7 separate regions of the Homo sapiens genome follow, and regions 2, 3, 4, 5, 6 and 7 are each linked to region 1. Evidence: fine-mapped expression QTL. A gene starts in region 1. Each other region holds a variant in brackets. All regions are shown on one strand. Distances are between the middles of the regions.

What was found.
Region 2: its variant is fine-mapped to the expression of CPQ in whole blood (INTERVAL, PIP 0.97).
Region 3: its variant is fine-mapped to the expression of CPQ in whole blood (INTERVAL, PIP above 0.99).
Region 4: its variant is fine-mapped to the expression of CPQ in whole blood (TOPMed, PIP above 0.99). The same link has a PIP of 0.9 or more in blood mononuclear cells and lung.
Region 5: its variant is fine-mapped to the expression of CPQ in gastroesophageal junction (GTEx, PIP 0.98).
Region 6: its variant is fine-mapped to the expression of CPQ in whole blood (TOPMed, PIP above 0.99).
Region 7: its variant is fine-mapped to the expression of CPQ in whole blood (TOPMed, PIP above 0.99).

What each region holds. Positions count from the first base shown.
Region 1 is chr8:96,642,779-96,646,847 of GRCh38, reverse strand. CPQ (carboxypeptidase Q) reads right to left here and starts at 1,606. Exons shown (of 8, transcript NM_016134.4): 1 at 1,446-1,606. RefSeq lists a silencer at 1,182-1,731.
Region 2 is chr8:97,059,748-97,063,816 of GRCh38, reverse strand. All of the region lies in intron 6 of CPQ (carboxypeptidase Q), which reads right to left. The region is part of intron 2 of LOC101927066 (a long non-coding RNA gene); the gene reads left to right. Among named protein-coding and RNA genes, the nearest start is that of TSPYL5, 220 kb to the left of the region's middle. The variant G/T (reference allele first, on the strand shown) is at 1,682.
Region 3 is chr8:96,850,320-96,854,388 of GRCh38, reverse strand. All of the region lies in intron 3 of CPQ (carboxypeptidase Q), which reads right to left. Among named protein-coding and RNA genes, the nearest start is that of CPQ, 210 kb to the right of the region's middle. The variant C/G (reference allele first, on the strand shown) is at 2,026.
Region 4 is chr8:97,054,035-97,058,103 of GRCh38, reverse strand. All of the region lies in intron 6 of CPQ (carboxypeptidase Q), which reads right to left. All of the region lies in intron 2 of LOC101927066 (a long non-coding RNA gene), which reads left to right. Among named protein-coding and RNA genes, the nearest start is that of TSPYL5, 220 kb to the left of the region's middle. The variant G/C (reference allele first, on the strand shown) is at 2,522.
Region 5 is chr8:96,838,278-96,842,346 of GRCh38, reverse strand. The region is part of intron 3 of CPQ (carboxypeptidase Q); the gene reads right to left. Among named protein-coding and RNA genes, the nearest start is that of CPQ, 200 kb to the right of the region's middle. The variant G/CTG (reference allele first, on the strand shown) is at 2,347.
Region 6 is chr8:97,172,981-97,177,049 of GRCh38, reverse strand. All of the region lies in intron 2 of LOC101927066 (a long non-coding RNA gene), which reads left to right. It overlaps LOC105375655 (a long non-coding RNA gene), which reads right to left. Exons shown (of 2, transcript XR_928434.3): 2 at 1-4,069. Among named protein-coding and RNA genes, the nearest start is that of TSPYL5, 100 kb to the left of the region's middle. The variant T/C (reference allele first, on the strand shown) is at 1,600.
Region 7 is chr8:97,046,855-97,050,923 of GRCh38, reverse strand. All of the region lies in intron 6 of CPQ (carboxypeptidase Q), which reads right to left. The region is part of intron 2 of LOC101927066 (a long non-coding RNA gene); the gene reads left to right. Among named protein-coding and RNA genes, the nearest start is that of TSPYL5, 230 kb to the left of the region's middle. The variant C/T (reference allele first, on the strand shown) is at 1,976.

The sequences.
Region 1 (4,069 bases):
AGCAAAGAAGAGAGCAGAGACAAAATGCTATGGGAGGTGAAGTAAGCAGAACTCCATGAAATCATCTGTAATTTCACCTTCTAACCCTGATACAAAAGAATCCCAGAGGTTTAACTCAGGCAGGGTTCCTAGCTAAACATCTTCATTTTGGAGATTAAGAAATTAAAACCTAAAGAGATCAAGTGGCAAGTCCAAGGTCATCCAGCTCTTCTGGAACCTGGACCTGGCAAGTAAGAACGGCTGCAGTGACCAACTGTATTAAAGCTATGTGCTAAGCCTATTTGTTTACAAACAGATAAGCGTCTTTCTGGGCCTTATGTAGCCTTCTTCAGTCACCTGCAAATCAGCCAGCACCTGTCTCAGGAAAACAGACAAGATTCTTAACAACTCTGAATTCAAAAGAAAAGCCTGGTTTTACAAACAAGTCAGAGTCATATGGTTCTGCCTTCAGAGTCACCCTTATCTTTAAGAAATACATGAAATAATATTATAGTGACAATGATTCTTTAAACGTCCAAAGTAGAAGTGAACAAAACACAAGCAAGAAAAAACCTAGGCATATTTTGTTTTAAGCAAACACATATAGCCAAGTCCAACAAAAATGGAAATACCAGGGGGCGTTTCCAGAGACCATTTGAACAGCATAGAACTCTTTTTAAGTGGTCCCAATCAGAATGCCTCCATTTGCAAAAGTGCGACATTCACACAACTTTTTGGAAAGCTATCAAAAAACAGGAGTTGTAAGCCTGCGTCTCCACTGCTTCCACTTCATACATCTTTATTTTCACTCATGCACTGATTGATTCAGCTGTATCTCGTATGCACTCATTTATTCACTTACTCATTTGTTAATTCACTCAGTTCTACGGCATAGGTACTCATTCAATTACTTATTGAGTAGCTCTGAGTCCTAAGTCAGATGGGACTTTGCCCTCATGGAACTTCGATTCTAGGAGAGTCCAGTAGCAGAAACTAGACGCATCAAAAGCGAAAGTACACGGTAAAATGCGAAAGGAACCCCAAAAGAACTGCATAAGGCATATTGGAGGCTCAGGGGGACCAGGATTGTTTGCAGATGGGGGATGAAGGGGGCGGCTTGGGGCTGAGCCCTGGAGCTGAGGGGAAGTGAAACCGTGTTGGGAAGGACGGCTGAGGGCCGTGCTCGCTGCTGTCCCGCAGCACCCTCCACCACCCCCACGTCACAGCTTCCCCATTTCTAGGCTCGGTGACTCCACTGTCACCGAAGGGGCAGCCACAGGCTCCCAACCCGCCGCTCCCCAGCCAGGTCCTCCCGTCACGCCCCCGAATGAGCGATGCTGGAAGTCCGTCCCCCTCTGCCCCCGCCCCTGGCCTGCTCCAGCCTCAGCCCGCCCGACCCCCGCGGGTAGGAGCCAAGGCCTCGGCCCAGCCGCCCGCGGGCACTGCCAGTTCGGCTGCAAACACACCTGATAGGGCGGCTCTGACGGCGGCGACGGAGGCGGCTCCCAGGACTAAGCTCGCGGCCTAGCCTTACGGTGGCGGCGGCCACACCCCTGACTGGGCTGGGGCCCTCCGCGCCGCCCCGTGACTGCAGCCCTGCTTGCCGGCCAGGCCGCGGGGCCGAGAGGCGGGGCAAAGACCTGACTCGGGAAGCCGGGGCGGGCGCCGGGTTCGGGCTGGGGGCCACCTCCGGAACGCCTGGGGGGTTCTCACTCGCCCTCCAAGGGCGACCTCAGGGCCACAGATCGGCCGGAAGGCTTCTCAGCTTCTGGGCTGTGGCTCCTGTTAGAAAATTGAGTGTCGCCCTGGGTCCCGAGCCCCTAGGCCTGACTCCTTCGTGCAGGGGCGTCGCCTTCAGACTGGGTGGTGCGCAGGCCAGGGCCGCGTGCTTTTCAGAAGCGCAGCCTCAGGCGAGGCGGGCGGCAGGGGCCTGAGAAGGCTCATGGCTTGGCAGAAGGGTCCTGTGCTTCAGTGGGTGCCCGTGCAGGTGGAGAAGGACGGGGCTGCGAAGCTGAAAGGAAAACGTGAAAGGTTTTTGTGTGTCTCTGAGCCTGAGTAAAGGCCATGCTTTCTGAGCTGTCAAACGCCTCCCAAAGGGAAGAGATTATTAAACCGTTTTCCCACCCTGCCAGGTGTAGGATTGTTAGGCGGTGATGATGGAAGGCAGAGATGACCCGAACTGAGAGATCAGAAAAAGCGTTTTCTCTTTCGTTTGTGCCTGAATTATATGAGGGTGCCCAAGAAGAAAGGAGACTCATCTGATTACCCGGTGTGGCTTATCTCAACAAGTCACACGCATTCTGGTCACAGAGTATGTGCTCAGTGTTTTCAATGCTTTATGTTTTGATAAGTGCAAATTCCTTTGTTTAACGAAACTCTTATCAAATACAAACAGTTATCTTTGTGAAACACTGAGCAGTTCCAGTCTCTCCTCTTAACTAAAAAAACCAAACAGAACTTTTAATTAGAAAAGAAAAGAAAGAATAAGCACATGCCTACTGGGAAAAAAAAAATACCATAAAATGTGCAAAGTCCACTCACCTTCGGTTAACAGTCCCTCTAAACCTTACTAGTCCTGTTGCCCACTGAAACAAGTGTGAACTCTGAGGCATTGGAGGGTCCACATAAACATGGCCCTGGCCCACCTTTCCCGAATCATCTCTCGGATGCCATATCTAACCCCACTGAATTACTTTTTTCTCAAACTATCAAGGGTAAAAGACAAGTTTTTATTATTTCCAATCTGACATGGACCATTATTTCTGTAAAATACAAATCAAAACCTGCTAGCAAATAAGAAAAGAGACAAAAACTACAAGCCCAGTTTTTATTACAAGTGTACAATGAGTATGCCAAAAAGTATAAAATTAGTTTTTCAATTATTGGTTGTTGTTGTTGTTTTTATTTCTAAATGCTTACTCACAATTTCTATACTTACCTGTTCATGGAGCAGTAAAAAGCTGTTCACTGACTGGCGGTGGTTGGATTACCGTTTAAGTGGCACTGACTTGCTGTTCTTTAATTATGTCAAATGCTTTTCAACTTCTGGGCCTTTTCTCATGTTTAATGTGAACGAAGTTCTTTCCCACTCAAGTTTCAACTCGTAATAACAATAAAAGCTTCACATTTATTGAGTGCCTTGTGCTAAGATTTTTGATGCATTAACTGTGAATTCTTATTTGTCCTATGAGCTACCTATTATTATCATTATTATTTCCCCCCACTGTACAGATAAGGAGATGGAGGATTAGAGAGGTCAAGTCACAAAACCAGTGAGGTACAAAGTCAGCATTAAACTGAGCTGGCCTGATTCTGGAGCCCAAGCAATCAACCAACATGCTGGGCCCCTCTCTGTGAAACCTCCCCCATTTGCTTTCAAGTTGAAATTAATCACTCTTGCTTACACCTCTACTCTAACATTTTTTCCCGTTGGTTTTCATTCATGTCAGCTTCCCACGCTAGGCTTTAAGCTTCTGAGTACAGTGAATTTGTCTGCTCACACTAATCACAGGAAGCAGAGCTCATTCGCATCTTTGCATTACCACTATCTTTTATGCTTACTTCATGATATGTTTTAATTATTTATTCTTGTCAGCATCCTCTACTAAACCATACAATGTTCAGAGTTATCTTACCAAAGATGCTTTTATTTATTTAATTGAATAAGCATTTCTATAGCATGTATAATGAGCCAGGTACTATTCCAAGAATTTTAAAACCTCGCAAATAGACCTATAGATATTATTTTATCCCTCTTTAAACTGTGAGGAAACTAAGGCATAGAGAGGTTGCAGTAAGTTGCAGGACCAGAATTCCAAACCAAGCAACCTGCCTGGCTCCAGAATCTATTTCTGAGCCACCATGCTATGTTGATTTTCCACAATACCATGTGTTCTTCCTACTTAGAACACTTCACTGCAGGGAGATCAATCCATAATGGCCAATTAGAAGCCCCTGCCCGCAGCACTCAGGGAGGAATGAGAAGGGGCAAGTGAATTCAGTACCTTCAACTGAAATATCCAGGTTCTCTCATTGGGACTGACTAGGCAAACCACCGGCCCATGGAGAATGAAGAAAAGTTGGGCAGGGT
Region 2 (4,069 bases), 420 kb before region 1:
TGGAACAGAGTAGGGAGCCCAGAAATAAGGCTGAACACCTACAAATATCTGATCTTTGACAAAGCTGACAAAAAAAAAGCAATGGGGAAACGGTTCCCCATTTAATAAAGGATGATGGGATAACTGACTAGCCACATGCAGAAGTTGAAACTTGACCCCTTCTTTACACCATACAAAAATCAACTAAAGATTGATTAAAGACTTAAATGTGAAGCCCAAAACTATAAAAACCCAGAAGACAACCTAGGCATACCATTCTGGACATAGGAACTAGCAAAGTTTTCATGACAAAGATGCCAAAAGCAATCGCAACAAAAGCAAAAGTTGACAGATGGAACCTAATTAAGAGTTTCTGTACAGCAAAAGAAACTATCAACAGAGTAAACAGACAACCTGCAGAACAGGAGAAAAGTTTTGCAAGCTATGCATCTGACAAAGGTCTAATATACAGCATCTATAAGGAACTTAAACAAATTTACAAGAGAAAAACAACCCCATTAAAAAGTGGGCAAAGGACATGAACAGAGGCTTCTCAAAAGAAGACATACGTGTGGCCAACAAGCATATGAAAAAAAGCTCAATATTACTGACCATTAGAGAAATGCAAATCAAAACCACAATGAGATACCATCTCACACCAGTCAGAATGGCAACTATTAAAAACTAAAAAAAGTACATGCTGGTGAGGTTGAGGAGAAAAGGGAACACTTATACAATGTTGATGGGAGTGTAAATTAGTTCAACCATTGTGGAAAGCAGTGTGGCGACTCCTCAAAGACCTAGAGACAGAATTACCATTCAACCCAGCAAGCCCATTACTGGGTATATACCAGTTAAGGGGAAATAGAAATCATTCTATATTATAAAGACACATGCATGTGTATGTTTACTGCAGCACTATTCACAATAACAGAGACATGGAATCAACCTAAATGCTCATCAGTGATAGACTGGATAAAGGAAATGTGGTACATATATACCAGGAAATACTATGCAACCACAAAAATAATGAGATCATGTCCTTTGCAGGGACATGGATGGAGCTGGAGGCCATTATCCTTAGCAAACTAAGTCAGAAATGGAAAACCAAATACCACATGTTCTCACTTATAAGTGGGAGTTAAATGGTGAGAACACATGGACAGATAGAGAGGAACAACACACACTGGAACCTACCAGAGGGTGGATGGTGGAAGGAGGGAGAAGATCAGGAAAAATAACTAATGGGTACTAGGCTTAACACCTGGGAGAGAAAATAATCTGTACAACAAACTCTCAGGAGGCAAGTTTCCCTATGTAACAAACCTGCACATGTACCCCTGAACTTAAAATAGAAGTTTTTAAAAAGTGGAGCTAGTTAGCAGTTTGGCTGTTAGACCCAACATTAATGAGCAGCCTGATGAGTTGGACACTGCCCTGGGCTCAGTCTGTTGTATTCCTGATTCAGCAACTGATACACTGGGCTACCAAGGCAGGTGAATGGCCTCTCCCTCTGTCCCCAAGTCATGTTACTTTGGTCCTTGGCTTCTGCATCTGTAGGTTGGGACAAAAGCTTGAATAATGAGCCTGTCCATATGAAGCTTCAAGCACCTTTAAAGAAAAGGCCTTTAAACCAAAGCAAAAATGGTTGCATGAATTGAAAACCAGGGCTTCTAATAATGTGTTCATTAAGTGTTTCCTG[G/T]TCCTCTTTAACTACAAATGAACAGATGTCCTAGGGACAGGGGACTTCACAGTTTGTGAATGCCATTGTGCAATGTCACAGGATGTTGACAGGAACATAGAGAATAGTGTAAATAAAGAAGGTTTCAAAGGTGCCCTAGGCTATATATGTGGCAGCCATTTTAGCAGAGAGATCAAGAGTGTGGGCTTCTGAATGATCCAGACTGGGTTTGACCCTCACATCAACCAATCTTTAGCTGTAATGGGGATGATAATGGTACCCAGCTCATGGAATTGTCAAAAACAGTACATTGTAAAGGCTAGGGCATAACTAGCACTTGGTAAACAGTAGCATTACTGTTGTTACTGTTCTTGGCACTGAGCATCAACACTTCTCAGATTTTCAAGGATGGTCTCAATATAAGCCCTTCTGTTAGCTGATTACAACGATGCTAGGCAGCATTTCTGTGATGTTTCCTACGAGCCAGACACTATGTGTAACGTCTTACAGCTCATCCCATGAGTGTGCATGATCATTCTTTAAGTGCTCTTATATTTCTCATCTGACAGATGAAGTAACTGAGGTTTAGTCAGGTTGACTAACTTTCCCACGGTTACCTAGCTAGTTAAGTGGTGCAGCCAGAATTCCAACCCAGAGGAATTGCTTCTACCTCCTAAGCAGTGCTCTCAACCTCTCCACTGCTGGGTCTCCTGAAAGTCACTTCTGTCAGGCCACAAGTCCTCACTTTTAATTCAGAAATACAAAGACCGTAGTTAAATGTATACATTAAAAACTTTTTTTCATGATCATAACACAAGGTATACTTGGACAGAAGTTGTTGTTCCTGCTAAAAAAGTAATTTGTTTAAGCCAAGAAAGAAATGAAAACAAAAACAAAAATCTCTTGCTCCACAATTTGCTTCCAACTATAAATAAAAAGCCTAAAATAATAAAACATCTTTTCAAGCCAAATAAGACAGGATGTGTAGATATCAGTAAACCAGAATTCTGGCATAGGTATAGAAATGTTTGATTTCTATTCGTGTAGAACTTTTTAAGTTGCTGCTTACATGATGGCAGCGTTTTATTGTTTTCTATTTATATATAAACATCTCCATATGTTTTCAATAAAGAACTAAGAAAACAAACTACCCACCGTCCATGACACTGCTTTTTCTCTACATTTATGGAGTCATTATCTAATTGTTAGCACATGGTGAAGGAGTTGGGACAATGTCTCTGCACAAAGAAACTGGAATGAATAGCTGTCACTGGGATGTTAGAACTGCTGCTTCTCAGGAATATATTGTCACGAACATCCTTATTCCTTAGTGTGCTATGTGTGGGGACACACTCAGTATAGATTTGAAAAGCTGATTATAGCTAGTGACAGGGAGCAGAGTAATGCTCATTTCACCCAACTCATTTTAGCACATGTAACAAGATATTCATCCTCTTGTTTATAGGGTGTAGGAAGAAACCAACTTCTAGAGGCTGAATGCTTTATTGCTGAGATAACCAGCACTGATTGAGACAAGCTGAGGCACATAGAAGAGGAGGCTGAGCAGCTCAATGATAAACTCAGATATTATCTGTAAACCCCCTATTTTGTTCTCTAAATAAAGAGAAGCTGCTCATTATTAGGAGCCATGAAAACTGTCATTCATTACCATGTAATATACATAATGCAATGTAGAGGAATGCTCCAAGGTAACCTCTTATGGTCAGATCATAGGATTAGTTAATATCTGCTCAGGGTTGAGGATTCATAATTGTCTTGTGCTACAATCACATGCTGTAACACTTCTGTTCCTTTTTTTAAGGGTCAGGCTACTCTGCCAAAGAACAATTTGGTTACCATTAGCATTCTTTGGGTGCAACGCAAGATTCAAAAGAAAAGTGTTTAAAATACATATTGCATGTTTTAAAATACTTCCTAATATAAACACAAGGATGATGTTTTTGTTTTTTGCTTTTATAAAATTCTAGGCTACTTTTCAGAAACATAGACCCAAGTTCAATAATAGCTCCTTTCTCTCCAAATTTGGCTTCTTTGTTTAAAAGTTTTTTATCTTCTCATAACCTAGAAAAAATAACTTATGAGACCACCATGGAAAAATAAATGAAATAAACGTATTTTCTCATGTTTCTCAACATGTCTTTGAATTTGACTTAAAGTGACATTGAAGTCTCAAGATCAAGTGGAAAGAAAAGAGACTCCTAACTATTTGAATTAATCATGTAGCCTCCTCAATTTATTCTTCAAAGAAGTAAACTCCACACTGACACAGGGCAATCAATTTTAGTAACTCTTTCTTGCCCTGTAAATGTAAATATTTTACAGATAATGGTGGTGATGCTGTTTGGTCAGGTGGTAGGCTCAAAACAAGTTCTCAAAAGCAAATCATCT
Region 3 (4,069 bases), 210 kb before region 1:
CTGCTAATTTTTTGTATTTTTAGTAGAGACGGGGTTTCACCGTTTTAGCCGGGATGGTCTCGATCTCCTGACCTCGTGATCCGCCCGCCTCGGCCTCCCAAAGTGCTGGGATTACAGGCGTGAGCCACCGCGCCCGGCCCACATTGTTTCTTAAAAGGAAGACACAATACAACTTTTCTGGGTGACTCAATGTTATCCTTATGAATTTACACCTCCATAGGATGTGGCAACCCAGCTTTGTGGTTACACTTCCGTTTTCTTGTCTCCTCTCTGTATGTCAAAATAACCTCTATCATTCCCACATCTGCTAATGTGATGTGTCCACAAAACCCAGAAATTTAAACATGTTAAAAATAATGTGCTAAAGGCCCAGAAGCTCTTGGTGAGAAGAGCAGCAATACAATATACTACCTTGCTGTGTGGGGTTAGAATAGCTATTAGGCTGGCTCAGAGGCCTTCTTCTCTGATTTCCACCTTAAATTGTTAATGAAACTTTAACCTCCAGATAAGTATGGCGTTACCATCATTGGTTTTGCCATGACTATGGGAATCCTAATACCAGGACATGCATAATTTAGTAGAAAATTAAAATGATAAAAGTATGTGGAGTGTACACTACACTACCAAATAATGTAGGCTACACACACTTTAGCCTATACTATTTATTTATTCACTCACAATAAGCCTTTTCCACGAGTAAGTTTCATCACTAAATTATCAACAACAACAAACCTTTCAAAACACGTAAATTCAGAGCCAAAGTATACAGGCTAGAAAAAGTTGATCTTCTCATGTGAACCAAATATTGACCAAAAAAAAAAAAAATCATGCCCAGTATTATAAACATCTGCTTTGTTTGTGTACCTAAAATATAAACTTATATTGCTCTTTCAGAAGGTCTGTTAAGTGACCAGTAACAGCACAGTGCAAGGTTGAGAGAAAGAATTTGACTGCAAACAAAAGCAAACAGCAAATGTCACATGAATTACCAGTCTTCACAGGAGAAATTCCATCTGTGTCTATAAAGGTTGAGCTTTCTCTTCCTGTTCTCAGAATATGTTAAGAATATAATGATTCATAGATTAGAGCCTGTCACAGCGCCCTGGCCTTGAATTTTAGAATGTTTCATATGCGCCCCCAAAAATCACACCTTCTACTAAATACCTTCCCATGACATTTATGTCCACGGTTCCCTTTCTGGAAAGTGAGGGCCAACAAAATCAGTCAAACTGTGTGGCAACTGAGGAAGAATGTTTAAGAACACTTCCATTCACATCCTGACAAGAACATCAAATATTTTGCAGCTTAGGTAACAGTCCTATTTTAGTAAACAACTGGAATTACACAATCAGTTTAGGGCTCACAATTAAGACTTCTTCAAATATGTGCCCACAGGGGTCTGGGAAGCATCAGTAGTAATAAGCATAAATAACAAGTACTGGCTATTCTTTTGGGGGCATGTAAGCATCTTATGCTGAGTCACTATCACCTTTTTTACTTGGAAACTTCCAAGAAGAAATACATTTGCATTTCAAGTTTCCATCTGGGTCAACCATGAACAAATAAGAATAGAGGAGAGAGACAGAGAGGCCGCCTGGAACGTGAGCTGGGAGCCCGATAAGAATTTCTCCAGCCGTGCCATCTGGTATGTCCTGGCACTTGTCATCCAAATTGCTATTCTCCTGAACAAATTTAGTTTCCCCCAGACAGTTCAGCTTAAATGAGCTCATACTGTCTATCTGACACCTGTCAAAAGAAGAGTGAAAAACTTCTCTAAGCTCTAAACTGAAGGAGGTAAGGAGGCAGAAAGAGAGAGAAATAAGCAGGAGCAAGGAAGAGGGCGAGATGGGATGTGTGCAGAGCAGAAAGAGCTCTTTCTTTGAGTGTCAGTGTATTTTTATGTTCACCTACAAACCTAATGCTGGAAGGTGGGGAAGGAAGGAAAAGCACCACTTCCAATCATATTTGCTGAGAGAAATACGATTGAACACACGAAAAATGAAAATAGTACAAACTACCTTCACT[C/G]TCACCTAGTGTCTTTTTTTTTGTGTGTGTGTCTATTTGTTGTCTATGGTGTTTTGTTTTGTTTTTAGTTAAGAAGGAAGGAAATAGCAGTGGAGAAATGTGATATGCTTTTGACAGCATGACCAATGCACTTTTTCCATCCCAGCTGGAACAGGATTCAGTAACAGGCAAGGGCAAGTGGAGGAGTGATTTCATTAACCAAGTCTTGATTTTGAGGTTTGCGTATCTGCAGATCTGCTTTTTCCTCCCAAAGTCTTGGGAAGCTGCCAATATGGGCAAAAAAATAAAAAGTGATGGTAACGGATTGAAGCTGCCATAGGGCAAATCTCTGGAAGGAGAAATATCATAAATAATTACCAGGAGGGTACTGCCTGTGCCTTTTGCCTTTCGAGTTGGAAGATAACAGAGAACCAAATTTAGTAACTGCTATTTGCCAGAGGAAGATACTGAATAAAGAGAAGGAAGAGGGGGACAAGAGAAAAGGGTAGGAAACAAATGGGCCTCACAGGAATACAATAAAAGATAACTTTCAAAATCCATCTTCCAAAACAAAGGGCCCAAGACTGTCGAGTCCCCTTCAAATCCATCTAATCTCATAGCACATTTGTTTGCAGTTTTCCCCCTTTCGTTTTCTTTATTCTATGGTTTGAAAGTGTCCCCTCCAAAATACAGGTGTTGACACTTATAATGGCCAATGTGATGATATTAAGTGGTGGGGCCTTTAAGAGGGCTCCTCCCCTCATAAATGGGATTAAGGCTTTTATAAAAGAGGTTTCACACAAAGATTTGGTTCACTTGTCCCTCTGTTCTTCCACATGTGAGGACACAGCGTTCCTCCCCTCTGGAGGATGAAGAAATAAGGTGCCATCTTGGAAGCAGAGAACAGCCCTTGCCAGACAACAGAAGCTGCCAGTGCCTTGTTTTTTGACCTCCCAGGATCCAGAACTGTGAGAAATAAAGATCTATTCTTTATAAATTACCCAGTCTATGGTATTCTGTTATAGCAGCACAAATGAACCAAATACTCTACCTGGACTTCTCAATTGGAATACATTGTTTGGTCTCTTTTGCAACCTTTACGAATATGACCTTACAAAGAGACTTACCTACGTATTTTTCATTTGTAGTTTAGTTATCTCACGACTCTCTCAAGTTGAAAAACAGATAATCAAAAACCTTTTTTTCAAAATGTCCTGATCAAGTTACTCAGGTGTAAAATGTGTCTAAAGCTCCCTGCCTCCCAAAGCTCTTGTAAGGGTCCAAATGAGGTGATATTTATGAAGCATCCAAAACATAAAAGCTATTGAGTGTATGCTAGCTCTTTTCTTTACCCCTCTCTGAATTAAAAGGTTCCTAGAACTTACAGCAGAAAAAGCTAGATCAGTAAAGGGCAATATTTGGATATGAATCCACAAACTTAAGTTTTCTAAAGGGAATAAATCCAATTAAAGATAAAAAGCGGCCAGGTGCAGTGGCTCATGCCTGTAATCCCAGCACTTTGGGAGGCTGAGTGGATGACCTGAGGTCAGGAGTTCCAGACCAGCCTGACCAACTTGGAGCAACCCTGTCTCTACTAAAAATATAAAATTAGCCAGGTGTGGTGGCACATGCCTGTAATCCCAGCTACTAGGGAGGTTGAGGCAGGAGAATCGCTTGAACCCTGGAGACAGAGGTTGTGGTGAGCCAAGATCTCACTGCTGCACTCTAGCCTGGGCAACAAGAGCAAAACTGCATCTCAATAAATAAATAAATAAATAAATAAATAAATAAATAAATAAAATAAAATAAAATAAAATAAAAATAAAAATCAGTGTAACACCTTAATGCCTTTTTGGAGTATTTACGAGCATCAGAATCTCTTTTCAAAAGGATTGCAATGAGCAGTATTTTAAATACACCATGATATTATGGATACAGCTGGAACTAAGCGACTTGAGGTGCATAAGCAATGGAGATCTATTTCACAGCTTCTTTCCTTAGTAGGCAAATAGATGACATTTTGTCAGCCTTGCCTCCCTGGAGATTAAAAACCAAGCCCCAGAGG
Region 4 (4,069 bases), 410 kb before region 1:
AGTATCCCCATATGCCTTATTTGATCAAGTACTCTTTACAAATATTAGTAAAGATGCTAACCACAACTTTAGAAATAATTATATTTTCTTAGGCGGGCCTTTCCTTCTTCTTTTTCAAAAGAAAATTAGCAGGTTTGAAACCTTATGAAAAACAAAAGTACCAAAATATGAACTTCAGGGCTCCTTGGTCTGCTCAAGTGACTTCATGCCCTACTTCTGCCCAAGCCTTCTGTGACTACCGTCCATACCCCTCCCTAATTTGTTGGCCTATTGCACTTCATTCAATTTTTTTTAAATGCCTGCCTTGCTCCTGCAAAAATTTAAGGCTCTCTACAAGAAAATGTCCAAATACTGTACTAAAAGAGTAGGTAAATGTGCTAGAACCAAGAAAATGCCATGAACACAGGAATCACGTGTGTGGATCTCTGCCATATCTCTAGATTAAATAACAGAACTAAGCACATAGTAGGTGAACAATAAATGTTTAAGGCAAAGGAAAAGTCACAATTTGGAACATTTTGACACAGCCTTAAAAGCAACTTGAGGATATAATTTAGCTCTAGCTTGTGGCTGCCAATGTGAGAGCGTGATTGATGTATTACTGAGCTCTCATTATCTAGGAAGAGAAAGTGCACCACCATCTCCTTGAAAAAAGCAATATTTTTTTCTAGCGCTCAGTTCTAAGGGGAGTAATTACATGGCTCTTTATATGAGGAACGCTGGACAAAATAATGGACACAGTCTCCAATAACAGTTTTACAAAAGATGCAGAAACACTTTTCCTAACACTATTTCTTACATATTGATCCTCAATTAAAGCCAAAAGCAAAATATTAAGTCACATTTCAGTAAATGTGTTTTTTCAGGAAGCAAAATGTATTTATTCAACAGTTATTTTGACGTAAACTTGAGTGATAGGGTGACTATACATTTTTGTTTGCCCTAGGAAGTCCCAGTTTACATCCCCTGTCTTGGTGTTAATTAACAGAGCCTCCTTTCTCTTGCAGACATTTCCTGGTTTTAATAATAAATCATATTTCCAACCTACATATGAGGGTATCTATATATGAAGATGACTAAGATAGGGTTGCTTTCCTAAAGGAGGGGAGAGTTTACCAGCAGAGGCAATAACTGGCTAATACATTAAATGTGATGAGTTCTATGAATATGTACAAAGAAGGGAAAGCAACTACTGAAAAATGTTGGCAAAAGCTTGATAAAAGAGGTGATGTTTGGCCTCAGCAAATACCCTAGACTGAAAGTGTTCCCATGAGAGCAGGGATCTTGTTAGTTCATCAGCATATTCTCAGAACCTAGCTAACGGGCACTTGAAAATACTTGTCAAATGAACAGATGACTTTATTCTAAGCATCCAACTAATGTCCAGAATGTAGCTTTCCAAGAGAGGATCAGAGCTTAGGCAATCTCTAAAAGGATAAATATAAGCATGTTCTGTAGAGTATCTCACTCTCAAACATTGGTTGTCCCTCCTAGAATTTTTGTAGGCATTAGCAAAAAATTTAAAGTGGAAACCATTAGTGAGCACCAAATTTCAAACCTGTGATGGAGCTGCACTTGACATTTGTTTACTCCTGGAAATGCATTCTTGCCTTGGCTTCTGGAACCTCAGACTCTTGGCTCTTTTTATGCTTTACTGGATGATCCTTCTCATTTTTCTTGGCTGGTTTTCTCATCCTCCTGACCAATAGAAATTGGGGTGCTCAGAAACAGACTAAAGGCCTCTTCTTTTCTCTATCACACTTACTGTGTTGGAACCCTTATTTAGGCTCATGGTTTTAAATAAATCTGTATGGTGATGAGTTCCAAATTCATATTTTCATGCATCTCCTGAATTCTACACTCATATCCCACAGCTACTCAGTACCTCCACTTAGATGTCTAATTGTGTATTAGTTTCCTATTGCTGCTGTCACAAATTACCACAAAGTCACTGACTTGAACAACACAATTTGTGTGTGTGTGTGTGTGTGTGTGTGTGTGTTTTGAGATAGGGTCTCACTCTGTCACCAAGCCTGGAGTGCAGTGGCATGATCTTGGCTCACTGCAGCTTTGGCTTCCCAGGCTCAAGCAATCCTCCCACCTCAGTCTCCTGAGTAGCTGGGACTACAGGTGCACCACCACGCCCAGCTAATTTTTTTGTGTTTTTATAGAGGAAAAGTCTCGCCAGGTTGCCCAGGCTGGTCTTGAACTTTTGGGCTCAGGTGATCCACCCACTTTGGCCTCCTAAAGTGCTAGGATTATAGGCATGAGCCACTGTGCCCGGCCTAAAAATTTATTCTCTAACAGTTCTGGAGGTTGTAAGTCTGAAATAAGCCTTACAGGGCTAAAATCAAGGTGCTGGTAGAGTTGGTTTCTTCTGGAACTCCTCTCTTGCTTGTACACCCAAAATGCAATCTATCAACAAATCTTGTTGGCTCTATTTTCAACATAGACTTACTCTCCGACAACTTCCCATCAGTTTCCCTGTTCTGACTCAGTCCAAGCGACCACCAGCCTTCAC[G/C]TGGAGTACTGCAGTAGCATCCTGTCTCCGTTTCAGCCCTTGCCTTCCTTCAGCCTATTTAGAAAATGGGAGAAATGATCTTGGTCAGGGAGAATCTGAAGGTGAGAGTTGAGTTATTATTTATTTGGCTTTATGACTAAAGAAGCCTCAAGTTGTCTACAGAATATGGACTTGAACCTCAAAAGGCTGAAAAAGTTAGCCACAAAACCATCTCTATCCAATTACATCAGCTGACTTATTGAAGGAAAGGTGGTGCAACCAATGGCTTTAGGAACTGGTGGCAACAATAGCCCTGGAGAAAGGAGAGAGGGGAGTGAGACATCAGGAGGAGGAAGAAAACAGTTCAGAGAGACTGATTCCAGTGAGGATCATGATGATGTGATAAAGGAGGCTTGTGGAGAATCCAGACCCTAGGACCAGGGGATCTTCAAGATGAAGAGACAGAGCCTCTAAGGGCACTATATTCCCTGGAGAGCAAAACCAACAATCACAGCATTGAAAACATAGAAGCTGAGCTTCCATTGGACAGGGGGACAGGGGTGTTGTGAGAGGGTAACTATTATTTTCCATTCAGATGGAGCATTTATATGAAGAAAACTCCATGCCTATGGCTATCTGTAGACTTCCCCCCTGAACTCTATACTTAAAACATTTTGTTATTTCAATAACTTTAGGGGTACAGTGGTTTTTTGGTCACATGGATGCACTGTATAGCAGTGAAGCCTGGGATTTTAGTGCACCCGTAACCCGAATAGTATACATTATACCCAATAGGTAGTTTTTCATCCTTCATTCACCTGCCATTCTCCCCCTTTCTAAGTCTCCAGTGTCCATTATACCACCCTGTTTGTCTTTGCATACCCATGGCTTAGCTCCAACTTATAAGTGAGGACATGTGGTATTTGGTTTTCCATTCCTGAATTACTTCACTTAGAATAATGGCCTCCAGTTCCATCCAAGTTGCTGCAGAAGATATTATTTCACTCTTTTATGGCTGAGTGGTATTCCGTGGTATGTATGTAACACATTTTCTTTATCCACTTATCTATTGATGGACAGTTAGGTTTATTCCATATCTTTGCAATTGTGAACCATGCTGTGATAAATGTACATGTGCAGGTGTCTTTTTGATATAATGACTTCTTTTCCTTTGGGCAGATACCTAGTAGTGGGATTGCTGGATAGAATGGTAGATATACTTTTAGTTCTTTGAGGAATCTCCATACTGTTTTCCATAGAGGCTATACTAATTTACGTTCCCACCAGCAGTGTATGAGTTCCCTTTTCACCACATCCACGACAACATCTATTGTTTTCTGATTTTTTAATAATGGCCATTCTCCCAGGGGTAAGGTGGTATCTCATTGTGGTTTTTATTTGCATTTCCCTGATGATTAGTGATGTTGAACATTTTTTCATATGTTTGTTGGCCATTTGTATATCTTCTTTTGAGAAATGTCAATTCATTGAACTCTATACTTTTTACCAAACTGCCTACTTGACCTCTCCACATGAAAGTCTGATATCTCAAACTTAACAGGTTCAAAC
Region 5 (4,069 bases), 200 kb before region 1:
TCCCCAAATTGCAATGATATTTCAAAACAATTTAAATGAAGCTTGATAGCTAATTATCTTAAGGTCATGCTTAAGAACCAAACCACCAGGACATCAAAAATCTGAGATTGTCTAAAGGTGAAGAATGCAACATTAATTTTTTTCCCATTAAAAAACAAAGGGAGTGGGGAAAGCAAGCTTTTTTATTCCCTGAGAATAACTGGTTTTCAAAAATCATCCAAAATAGACCTCTTAAGACATTTCACCTCTGCTCTGAGTGTTTTAAGCTGGCCCTCTGATTACAAAATGTTCATGTGAAATCTCATCAAGATGCTTTCTTAACATGAAGAATGTTTTATAAATTGTAATGGCTTTAATCAGCACCCTCTTTGAAGCTATTTAACTCTATGATGTAGCCCACCCATTGCTTCAATTATGTCATTTATCAACTCTGTATTAATTAAGTATCATTATAGAGATTGATTTATGTACTTTTTCATGTCTCTCTCACCAGATGGTATAGCATTCTCCCTCTCTGACACTCCATAAACATCACCTGGATTCACTCATCTCTCTCCCCAGCTGAATGTTTAATCAGCTCTTAGTCATCTTCAAACTAAATTGCTCCTCTTCCTCCTCCTCTTCACTATACTCTGTCAATACAGTACACAAAGGCCAAGTGATATAAAACATCAGCCAGTAGTATTTCCAAAGCCAAGCCCTATCAACAACTCATTCCCACCTCAATGAGTTCATACCCAGTGTGGTGATGCAATTTTCACAGTAAAGTGAAGAGAAAGTCTTTTGCTTCCTTAGCTGATTAAAAGTCGCAGTCCCTGTTCAACTATCTGGGGCAATGGAGAAAATAACTAGGAAAAAATGTATGTGTGGCAGTGGGAATACAACAAACAGTTTGGCCTCAGTAGAGTTACCTTTTGAATTATATTTTACATGGGCTAATATAAAAATTACTTTGCATTCTTGAGCTCGCATGCTAAGAAAGCAGGAGGCAGAAGTCCCAAGGTATTGCAAGAAAGCCAGCCTAGAATTTTAAACTGCCTTGGGTGATCTAAAAAGCGGACAACAGAGAAATGGAAATGCTGAACTGTTTTTCTTGCAAAATATAAAGACCAGATTAATGGGACTATCTTACAGTTGCCTCGGACTCAAAATGTCTAGAAACCAAACTGGCTGGTTTCCCTCCAAGCCAGCTCCCTCTCCCGACCCCTACATTTCTTATTCTCCTGTCCCCAAGCTGGGATCCTTAGAGCAGGGATCATCAGCTCAAATATCTACAGGACTCGAATAGGCAACATAAATGAATAAAGTATATAAAAAAAGAGGGGAAAACTTGGCAGATAAGAGGGGGGACATCCCATCAACAAGAAGAATTTGATGGCTAATCTGCTCAGCTGAAGTTTGCCCAATGGAACATACAAGATATATCACCAAATCTGGTTTTTCTCTAAAACCACAAATCCTTATTGTTATTTGAAACTTAAGATTTTTAAATTTTGGGCTGAACTAAATACAGATTCATCCCATAGATTTTAATCCTTGCCTATCAACTTGGACCCCTACTCCTTCCCCCTTTGAATACAATCAATCCCCAAGTTCTAATGTTCTCATACTATGCCTCCTGCTGATTTCTTTCCATTCCAATTGCCATCATCTATGCCCTCATTACTTCATATCTGCATTATTAGAGGAGTAACCTGTCCTTCCCTGTCTAATGCATGCTATGCACAATGGCCAAATTGATCTTTCTAAAACAGTAGTTCTTAAACTTTAATGTGTATCAGAATCACCTGGAGGGCTTGTTAAACCAGATTGCTGGACCCCACCCTTAGCTTTTCTGATACAACGGGTATTAGGTGGGGCCTAATAATTTGCACATCAATAAGCTCCTAGATAGGTTGATGTTGCTATTCCAGGGACCACACTTCAAGAACCACTGCTGTAAAATTCACCCCATATCTTTAACACATTCCATGGTTCTCCATTTCCTCCACATTAGACTTAAAACTGCCTAATCTGCTACCCTGAATTCTTCAAGCCTGGTCTCTTCCTCTCACCCCAGAATTGCATTTCTCTGACCCCCTAGGAGGCCTGGCTCCAGCTAAACTGATCTGCTTGTGTTTTACCCAAATATATCATGCAGTCCCACCTTGCTTTGATATTTACAGAGAGTCTTTCCACCTCCTTTCTCTTGGTCAATTCTGCCTTTTTATTGAACACACCCCAAATCCACATTGTCAGTGCAACCAACCCCAATCAGATTTCTGTTATCTCCTCTAGATTCCTATAGCATTAGCTCTCCAGGTTGCTTGGTACAATCTAACAGCATGGAAGTTAGAGCCAGAGACT[G/CTG]AGTTTGAATCCTAGTTCTTTCATTAGATGTGTAGCATGATAAGCCATTAATCATTCTGAACCTGTCTCTCCTTCAGTAAAAGAGATACCAATACAGTATCTACTTCTATTGGGTTACATAAAGAATTAATTGAGACAAACTCTTTAACCCTTTAGAATAGTACAAAGTTGGTGCTTAATAAATAGTAATTTCCTTTCTTTATCCCTTTCCCCCAATCATTCACTTAGCACTAAATATAAAATAAATAACACTAATCACTTACATGTTCTTACCCCCTTCTCTTTTGGCTACATAAAAATATTTCTTGAGGACAAAAAACACATGGAATTCACCTTAGTAATCCTAGTACTCGGAAATTTCTGAGCAACTAGGAAGCTCTCAAGAAATATGTACTAAACAATATGATAAATTAGAGAAATAATGCAAGACAAATTGTTCCATAGAGAAGCTTTCCTCTGTGGGACTTAAATCTCTAATTAATTGCATTTATTCTTAAAACATATTTCCCAGGACAAAAGCAAAGAAAGGTATTTTACCATCAGAAAAACTAAAAAAGCTCTAATGGGGGGGTCTCAGTTGATAATGGTGATGGAAAGAAGTGTCATTAGAAAAGCATTAATAAAGGGAATATCTCCTAGAAGTAAAGTTGAGCCCAAGAACACTAATAATGGCAACACAGAGAATAACAATAATGAACCTGGAGACGATGCTGACAACAAGCAATGGACATTTTTTCAGGACATCTGTCATGCAACTGTGTGACCACTGCAGACCCAAAATGGCTGATGATATTGATGATTACACCACAAAGTGTCCAATCAAACTGGTCAAATCAAACTACCCTCCAGGGGATTCTCAAATTTTGAATCCAACAGCAACAAATCATAATATATATATATATATATAATATAATGTTCTCTAGTGTTGCTGACCTCTATAATATTTTTAGATGAAATCCAGTATCACCCACTCCCATAGAGGTGAAATGCTTTTCAGAGAGAAGGGAGCTATTTTCCTTAATCAGCAACTCAAAACATCTTTGTTCATAAGTGTAGTGGCAGAAAAAATGTATAATCTGGCATATTGGGCATCTGAATATTTTCCTCCAAATGCAGAGCAAAGTACCCTAAAAGTTCAAGTTGTTTCAAACTTACTATACATGGGTTACATAGTTCGGACAAAGAGCACCAGGAACCGGGTCAGCTGGTTTGTTACGAGAGCCCTGCCATGATTTACTCTACATCCTCAGACAAATTCATTCCTTCCGTAGACATTTCCTAAGTTATTACCATGTTTCAAACATTATACTAGATGATAGGAATCCAGAGGTTAAAAAATACACGTAATCAATGTCTTTCTGGAACTTAGAGTCTAGTGTGGAGACAGGCAATTGGGGCAGACTGGGCAGTATTTCACCAAATTCACTTTCCTTTCACCCTGGACATAAAGATAGGCCAAATTTCCTAGCCTCCATGTAATAGCATTCTGCCCAATAGAATGTCAGCAGAAGTGAGGTGTGCCATATCCAGGCCTAGATATGGATAACCATGGAAAATCTCCCTCTAGGTTATCGACTTTCTCTCTCTATCCCCTTATGCGTCAGATGAATGCAGAAGACTCTGCAGAGAACTCAGATCTCAAAAATGATAGAGCCACAGATGGAAAGGAGCAGAAGGCCACATTCTGACCACCCCCTTGAAACCATTATGTGAACATGCAAAA
Region 6 (4,069 bases), 530 kb before region 1:
TCTCAGGGTTGCTGCCAAACGAGCCGTGAACTGGGCTGGATTTTTATATTTGATGAAAAACAGCCTAAACGCTTCTGATTTGGGATAAAGAAAAAGGAGCATTAACCTTGACTATGCCTTTGGCTCCAGCCACCTTTTTAAGAATAAATTGCTGGGCAGGTGGGGGAGGGCTAGTCACGGAACGAAACTGTAAGCCGGACCAGGTGTGAGGAGGGGAGGCGATAAAAAGATTATAGGGTAGAGGAGCGGAGGCTGAGGAAGAATTGGGACCTAGCTCGGCCTGGCGAGGAGGGGAGAGGTCAGATGGGTCTGTAGAAAAGGAAGATTAGAAAGACTCAGCGATGCTTGGGGTTGGGACTGAGGGGACAGGCGGGAGGGAAAGAAGGAAGATTTGGGATGAGTTGCACTGGGCACAGAGACTAGGAAGGGACTGATGTGTAAAAGAATGCCTGGACGTCAGGCACCTCAGGCCATTTGCCCATTTTACGACAAGAATTATTTAGATCTTGTAGGATGGAAAAATTGAAAGTGCCGTTTTCTGGCTATTTGGAACTATGTCGAGTTTGTATTGGGGTTAAGCGTCATTGCAGAAGAAAATAAGGCATTTAGGTTTTAGGTCAGGTGTGAGTTGAAGAGGTTTTAAGTTCTTGAGAACACAGGCTAAGGGAGAAGAAGGAGGAATGGAGGATGGAAGGTTGCCCATAGTGAAGGAGGCAAACCCAGAGAAAAGAGGGTGTAGAGACACGGAGGGAAGGGTTTTGGGGGTTCTTACCCTCCAGAAAAGTGGGAAGGGGGGGTGGGGCATGGAAATAAGGGATTGGGGCACAGAGATAAGAGGTTGGGGTACAGAAATAAGGGATTGGGGGTTCTTGCCCCCTAGAAAAGCGGGACTTGCCACTAAAGGTGAAGGAGAAGGGGTTGAGGGGTACTTGCCCCTCCCCCAGAAAAGCAGAGAAGGGGTAGAGACACTGAAGAAGGGGTTGGGGTACTTGCCCCTCCCCCAGAAAAGCAGGACTTGCCGCTAAGGGTGAAGGAGAAGGGGTTGAGGGGTACTTGCCCCTCCCCCAGAAAAGCAGAGAAGGGGTAGAGACATGGAGAGAAGGGGTTGGGATACTTGCCCCTCCCCCAGAAAAGCGGGACTTGCCGCTAAGGGTGGAGGACCAAGGCAGGCCTCCCTATGTGGTCTGACACCTTTGAAATGTGGGTGAATAATCAGAGAGGTGTCTCTGCAATGATTAAACACCAAGGGAAGTCTGTCTTCCCAGTCCATGACCAGTGCTGGAGTTTTGGGTCCACGGATAAAACGTGTCTTCTTTGTCTCTACCAGAAAATGAAAGGAATTGAAATTAAGAGAAGGGAGAGATTGAAGTGTGGCACCAAGATTGAAAGGAGAAAGAGGTTGAGGGATAGTGAGGGAGGTTGGAGAAGAGAGTAAAAAGAGGCCACTTACCGGATTTGAAATTGGTGAGATGTTTCTTGGGCTGGTCAGTCTGAGGACCTGAGGTGGTAGGTGGAGCTTTCTCATGGAGCAAAGAGCAGGAGGACAGGGGATTGATCTCCCAAGGGAGGTCCCCTGATCCACCAAATTTCATGCGCGTC[T/C]GTGTGAAGAGACCACCAAACAGGCTTTGTGTGAGCAACATGGCTGGTTGTTTCACCTGGGTGCAGGTGGGCTGAGTCCAAAAAGAGAGTCAGCGAAGGGAGATAGGGGTGGGGCCGTTTTATAGGATTTGGGAAGGTAATGGAAAATTACAGTCAAAGGGGGTTGTTCTCTGGTGGGCAGGGGCGGGGGGTCACAAGGTGCTCAGTGGGGGAGCTTCTGAGCCAGGAGAAGGAAATTCACAGGGTTAATCACTCAGTTAAGGTGGGGCAGGAACAAATCACAATGGTGGAATGTCATCAGTTAAGGTGGGGCAGGGCCTTTTTACTTCTTTTGTGATTCTTCAGTTACTTCAGGCCATCTGGGGGCATACGTGCAAGTCACAGGGGATGCGATGGCTTGGCTTGGGCTCAGAGGCCTGACAATAGGCAGAAGCCAGGGAGGCCAAGGAAGCTAAGTTTCATCCAGGATCACAGTTCTTAGCCTAAGTCATATCATAAAGAAAAAGTTGATATCCTCTGATCATTTATGGAGAAAGAATGTTATAAACTGAATTTTGACTTTTCTCACAAATTCTTCCTTGTGTGGCAAGACCAATGAGTATGCTCGTGTTGTGTGGGCAGTTCCACTTTTAGAGGAGAATATTTGAAAATAATATGGCAGCTCCTGACTGGTGATTTCTGGTTCTCTCAGGTCTTGCATTTTCTCTTTTTAAAATAGCATCCTAAATAGAATTTGAATCCTAACTTTATAAAAAATAATAATAAAATAAAAAGAGGAAATATTAATTCAAATCATGTCATGTCCCGCTTTCAACCCTCCAATCCAAAGTCTTAGCAAGGCTTATAAGGGCCTACCTGGTCTGCCCTGCCCACTTCTGACTTCCTCTCACTATTACTGGCTTTATTCTTTCTAAGATGAAGTTAGGCATTTAAATTCATCAAATCTGAGGAAGTGGCTTATCTGTTTCTGTATGTAAGAAATTATCTCCCTTTTTTGTTAAACAGTCAGATGAATTGTCAGTATTAATGCCTGGACTATGAGATTTGAATCTGAATGAAATAGCCTAGGGAGGCAGGGAAAGAAATACAGTGAGGCATTCATTTAAAAAATATTCATTTGACCTTATGTACTAAGGTGAATGCGGGTAGAAGTTCCTGAAGCCAAGTTCAGATGTGACTTCCTTTCCTAAAGAGGCCCAATTAAGATCATATATCAGGTTGGCTCCTTCATTTGCATGTGAAAAGGCACAGTTACGGATGTAGCGGATTGTTTGCATGGCAAATTATAAGGAAATGTTTCTTCCTTCTGCCATCAAGACACTGTTTCAGCCATTTCCACATTAATTTTGTAGGCTGGAAAGCTCTTGTTGCCATTAATTATATCTGGGCAAAACTGGATTGAGTGGAGATAGGTTGGCAACAAAATAGGATGAGGCAGAAAATCTTGCAGAGTATCTCACCAGTTGAAAGAGCAGGGAAAGGACAAGTTTGAAATTATCTGTGCAAAGAATCCAGCTCCTTGCTGAATCTCCACTTTCTCCATGTCTTGCAGGTGATGTGTGGTTCCTAAAGGACTTCTGTCACTGTGCTTGCCCGAGGTGCAGTTAGAAAACCAGTTCTCTTGCTTTGTGCTGCATTTAGCCCAGCCAGGTTGGCAAAAGTTCGTAAAAGTGACCCCATTTTGTTCTCTCTCCCTTCAGATTTCAGTTTTGGCATAAGTTTTGGTTGGCAAATTGCATTCTACAATGAAAACGTTTTCTTACATTTAACCCTAAGTTGGCTTGAGATGGGCATAACCAGTCCTGATGCTGAAGGAAATAGTTAGGATATTAGGTCCTAGATTGCAAGCAAACTCAGTCCCACATCAGAGCCCAAGGAATGAAGCATCATACCTCAAAAGGCGCCCTAGACTTGAGCCCTCTAGACTAGCAGAGCAGATGCTCGTGACTCTTAGAAACTTCTGGGTTGAAAAAGAAATTTCAAATTCTTGGAAGCAACCTTCCCCCTACTTTCTCACAACAAATCCCTGACATAAACACAAAAGACATAAACATCTACTTAGCTATAGAAGAGTGGAGTTGTTATATAAGAATAGCTGTATGAGTTTAAAAGATGGGCTAATAAATTTGAAGGACAAAATTGAAGTCAGAAGAACTAGAAAGATGCAGATTACATTTTTTTCTGAAACATATCGTAGGGTGAAAAATAAAATAAGACAAGGGTTTTGGGCTGAAATATGCTAAGGACTTGCTGAACCCAAGCTCTGCATAAAAGCAGTTCAAGATGCTTATGTATGTGAGTATGTACATCGCTCTTTTTTTCTTTCTCTAAACCTGCTGCTGGAATCCACCATCCTGTCCTTTTTCATAACCTTCTCTGCAGGACAGATAGTCTCTCCCAACTGAGGCTCCATTTGCCTTGCCAAATCCCATTCTGAAAATTCAGCTTTCCAAATGGCAGCTTTAAGGGG
Region 7 (4,069 bases), 400 kb before region 1:
GGGCTATAATATACCAAGCTATTCTGTTCTCTCGAGGCATTGTTATTACCAACAAAAGTGACTAATAAGTAGAGTAACCATTACTTAAGTTGCTATGTAGGCCAGGAAACTTTTGAGAGTGAAAAGGGATTCTATTAATGATTATGTCAGGACAATGGGTACAAGCTGGACTCTCAAGCAAATCAGGACCAAAAGGCTACTTAAGCACAATTTTTCTAATTTTTTTGAAATGGGGTCTTGCTACGTTGCTCAGGCTGATCACAAACCCTGGGCTCACGCAATCCTTCTGCCTCAGCCTCCCAAGTAGCTGGGATTACAGATGTGCACCACCACGTCTGGCTTGTTTTTCTGATTTTTTGCATCTCCTGTTTCTGCCAGTATAAAATTCAAAAGATAAAATACCATATTTCCCTAAATGTAAGAATCACAGTATTCTCCTTTTTTAGCATTTTGGAAATTGGAATGTATCTTGTTATTGATGCATTCCATAAGAAAGTTACCAAATTCTAGGCAAATAAACAAACATATTCATTGTATTGTATTCATATATTCATTGTCATTGTTTGTCCACATGCAAACTTCATCACACAGAAAGGGCCCTGGATAATGTATTTTACACTTCACTTATTTACACTGGTATCAACACAGATCATTAAATTTTAAATTACAGTCCATAATTATTGATTAAAATTCTTCATTATATTTTGATGTACACAGAAGATTGATTTTCATGTGTGAGGCAAAACAATGAAAAACAATAGAAATCGCCAAATCTTCAGAATAGACTCTAGAGTGTTCAAGGTGAGCAAAGACTGGTGTAGCCAGCCATGAATCATGGAGGCCTCCCACTCAGGTACTAAGCAATTTGCCAAAAGCTCCCTTAGAGTTTCAGGAGAAGCTATATGGCTTACAGAAATATTAAAATTAAAAATTAAGTGTAAAAAACTTGGCCAAATTGAAAGTACAGAGGAAAAACGTGTTCAATATGCCTTGTAATAGGCTGCCAACCACAAGGGTACACCTTTAGCACCTTGTCAAAACAAGGAGCATGGGTGACACAAAGTGGCCTGGCACCTTAATGCCAATGCTTCACTGCTAATGACCAAAGGGTTCAGAGACATCTGCAGACTCTGGATTGAAGGTATTTTAGACATGGATTGATTCTAAAAACAAAAGTGTTGGGCACTGTATGATATTGTCAGTTTAAAAACCCCTGTGCATTTAATGTAGTTTTATTTTTCCTGAAAATTTGTATTAATTTTAATCGCACCACTAACAATTGACGATCCTTAAATCAAAGAAATGGAGAACTGAATACCTTCTAACCCATCTCAATGTGTCACTATTGAGTTTCCACTCCCCTTCCTCAAGCTCTACTATTTTCTAGTTTAAATTTGAGAATGCAATTATTTGACATTCAGTTGTTCTAACTGGGGAGCTGTTAATGGTGGTTGTATTTTAAAAATAAAAGTAAGTTTATTTCACTGCAATTCATAATCTGATTGCTTTGAACCACATTTAAGAAAAGCAGTACAAGCCAGACTGTCGCAGCTGGCAGCTCTGCCCTTTGACATCCTTTGGGTCTCCTTCTCAGTAATAATGTACTCACATAAATATCACTGTCCTATATTAATGGTAAAATATCTGCTGAAGGAAGGAGGTGTATTATACACATAAATTTAAAAGGCATTTTTCACCTAATCAGAGTAGTCATAAGAAAAAAGCACTTCACTCCACTTGAAAATTTCAATATTATAAAGTCCAGAATTGCTGGTTCTTATAAAGACGATGCTAATTTATTACTTCACTCATGTCACTTCCATGTAATGAAATAATTAGCTGGGAAATTATATTTGCATTCTCAACACTTTTGTACAATAGGAATGTCAGTATAATTAGGCATTAACTACAATTTCAGAGAATTGAAGGTAGCAGCTTTGTGTACAAGTGAATATTTTTTTTCCCTTCATTTGCT[C/T]CATTCTTATCTTGGTGATTCAGAAAAAGATGTTTAAACAGAGCCTTTCAATGAAAGCCATCACAAAAGTGTGCCATATTAAGGTAATTGCCTACAAGATGAGAAGATAGAAATCTTTCTGCCAAATTCTTTGGAAACCAATGGGCTTCATGCCTGAGGCACCAACAATTTGTTAAATTTTTGAATATGTCCTTCATTCTCATTTTCCGTTCCACCTCTGTTGTATTAGGCTTTGGCAGCTTAAGCTCTCTAAAAGGGGCAGCTCCTGATCACAGCCACCTTTCATTGAAGAAGAACAAACACCAATCCATTCTGGCAGGTGCAGTTTTCCAATACATTCAGAAAACAGTTTGGGAAAGAAAGTATTAACAAACTGAGCTCTCAACTGTGAAGAAAAGAACATGTTAAAGGTTACAAATAGTTTTATCTCCTGAACAAGGAAAGAATGAATTAGAGTCCACTTTTTTAGAAACTAAAACAAAACAGTGTTAAATTATTTGTGCTTTGAGTTTAGTTTGCAAGTAATATTTAAATGTCTCTTTTGCAATTCAGAATTCATCCCATCTCCCAGTCATTGATCCTTCCTTAGTGCTTTCATGCAAGAACTACTAAGGCAACTGGGATTAAGGGACTTTAACTTTTGGAGACCTACAGCTACTTTCCTTTATAATTGCTCCCCCAATCTTCTAAATTGTATTACTTTCTTTTATAATTGCTCCTCCAATCTTCTAAATTGTATCCTTCAATGAAGAAATCACTAAGTGGACCTGGCCAGGAATATTCTCATTGTCTGATAGTGTTAAAAAATACTGACATACGTAAAATCTCTATCCTTGGAGATCTTTAAATATAGCACAGGTAGGGGTCCATTCTGATGTATCCCTGTCCTTGGTGTTTCGGGAATGGTTATCCTGAAAGAAGAAAGCCAGACTTGATTTTTGGAGGGTCTTCACATATAGAGTGTCTAAGCTCTATACACATGGGAAAGATATAAAAACAGACATATACATGCATTATTTCCATCTCTCAAAGGTTAGGGTTCTATTCTCACTTTTATTTGAAGATGAAGGCAGTGAGAAATGTCCTAGAGTAGTATGTTAGGGTGCCTCCGCTCTGAACGCAGTCTTTTGAATAGTGAAATGATTTTAACATTTATTATTATTAGAAACAGTTTTTCATATCATTAAAAGATCTCTGAACTTTTTAATTTTTCTGTATTGTTTAGCTAAAACTTTACCTAGAAAATGCCCCAAACTAAAGGAAAATTACACAGATGACTGAAGTGAAGTGTTGTTGGTTATTTTTTTAAAACTCATTGTAGCAGGATTTATAGAATTAACTTCGTGAACAAATACAAATATTTATTTTTATACCAAGAAAGTGTGAATATAAAACATTGAGAATTACTAGTGACAACTGATGTCTGCATGGTTACACAATATCCTTTGGCCATTGTATAGAATTGATACCATGCTATATGTGTTTTAAACTAAGCACCTTGAAGCAACTTCTCCTTTCATCTATTTATATGTTACTGATTATCCAGCATTCCTAAATATGCTGCTATGTATGTCCTTCAGTTTATGACAAATTAGTAGATATCTACATTTAAGATGGTGACAGAGAAGTATGTGGTCATAGAAGTCATGGCTGAAGTCCAAGTTCAGGCTCTGCACCTTATGGGCTGTGCTATGCAAACTTGGGTACATTCTTCACTTCTTTGAGCCTCTGTTTCTTCATGTGTGAAATAAGGAAAACAGTACATGGTCTGGCAACCACCAGGGTCATTACTATCATCAATGACTTGATGTCCACGAAAGCGTAATTTATAAATGATCACATAGATGCAAGAGATTATAATGCCATCTTTTAAATGGTAAGAACTTGTTACATATTTGTTTGGGAAATGGGACCTTTCAAAATTCTTGGTGGTTTCTTTTCTCTCTGTAAATCTATCAAAACAAAAATCTCTAGCACTGAAAAAAAACAAATTACTTTTCCTTACGTGGAAAAAATGGGTAATTTTCACAAAGCACTTTTCTGTCTGTCTACTATTATGTTCCTTTCCCTTTGACCTTTCCTAATTCAAATGAC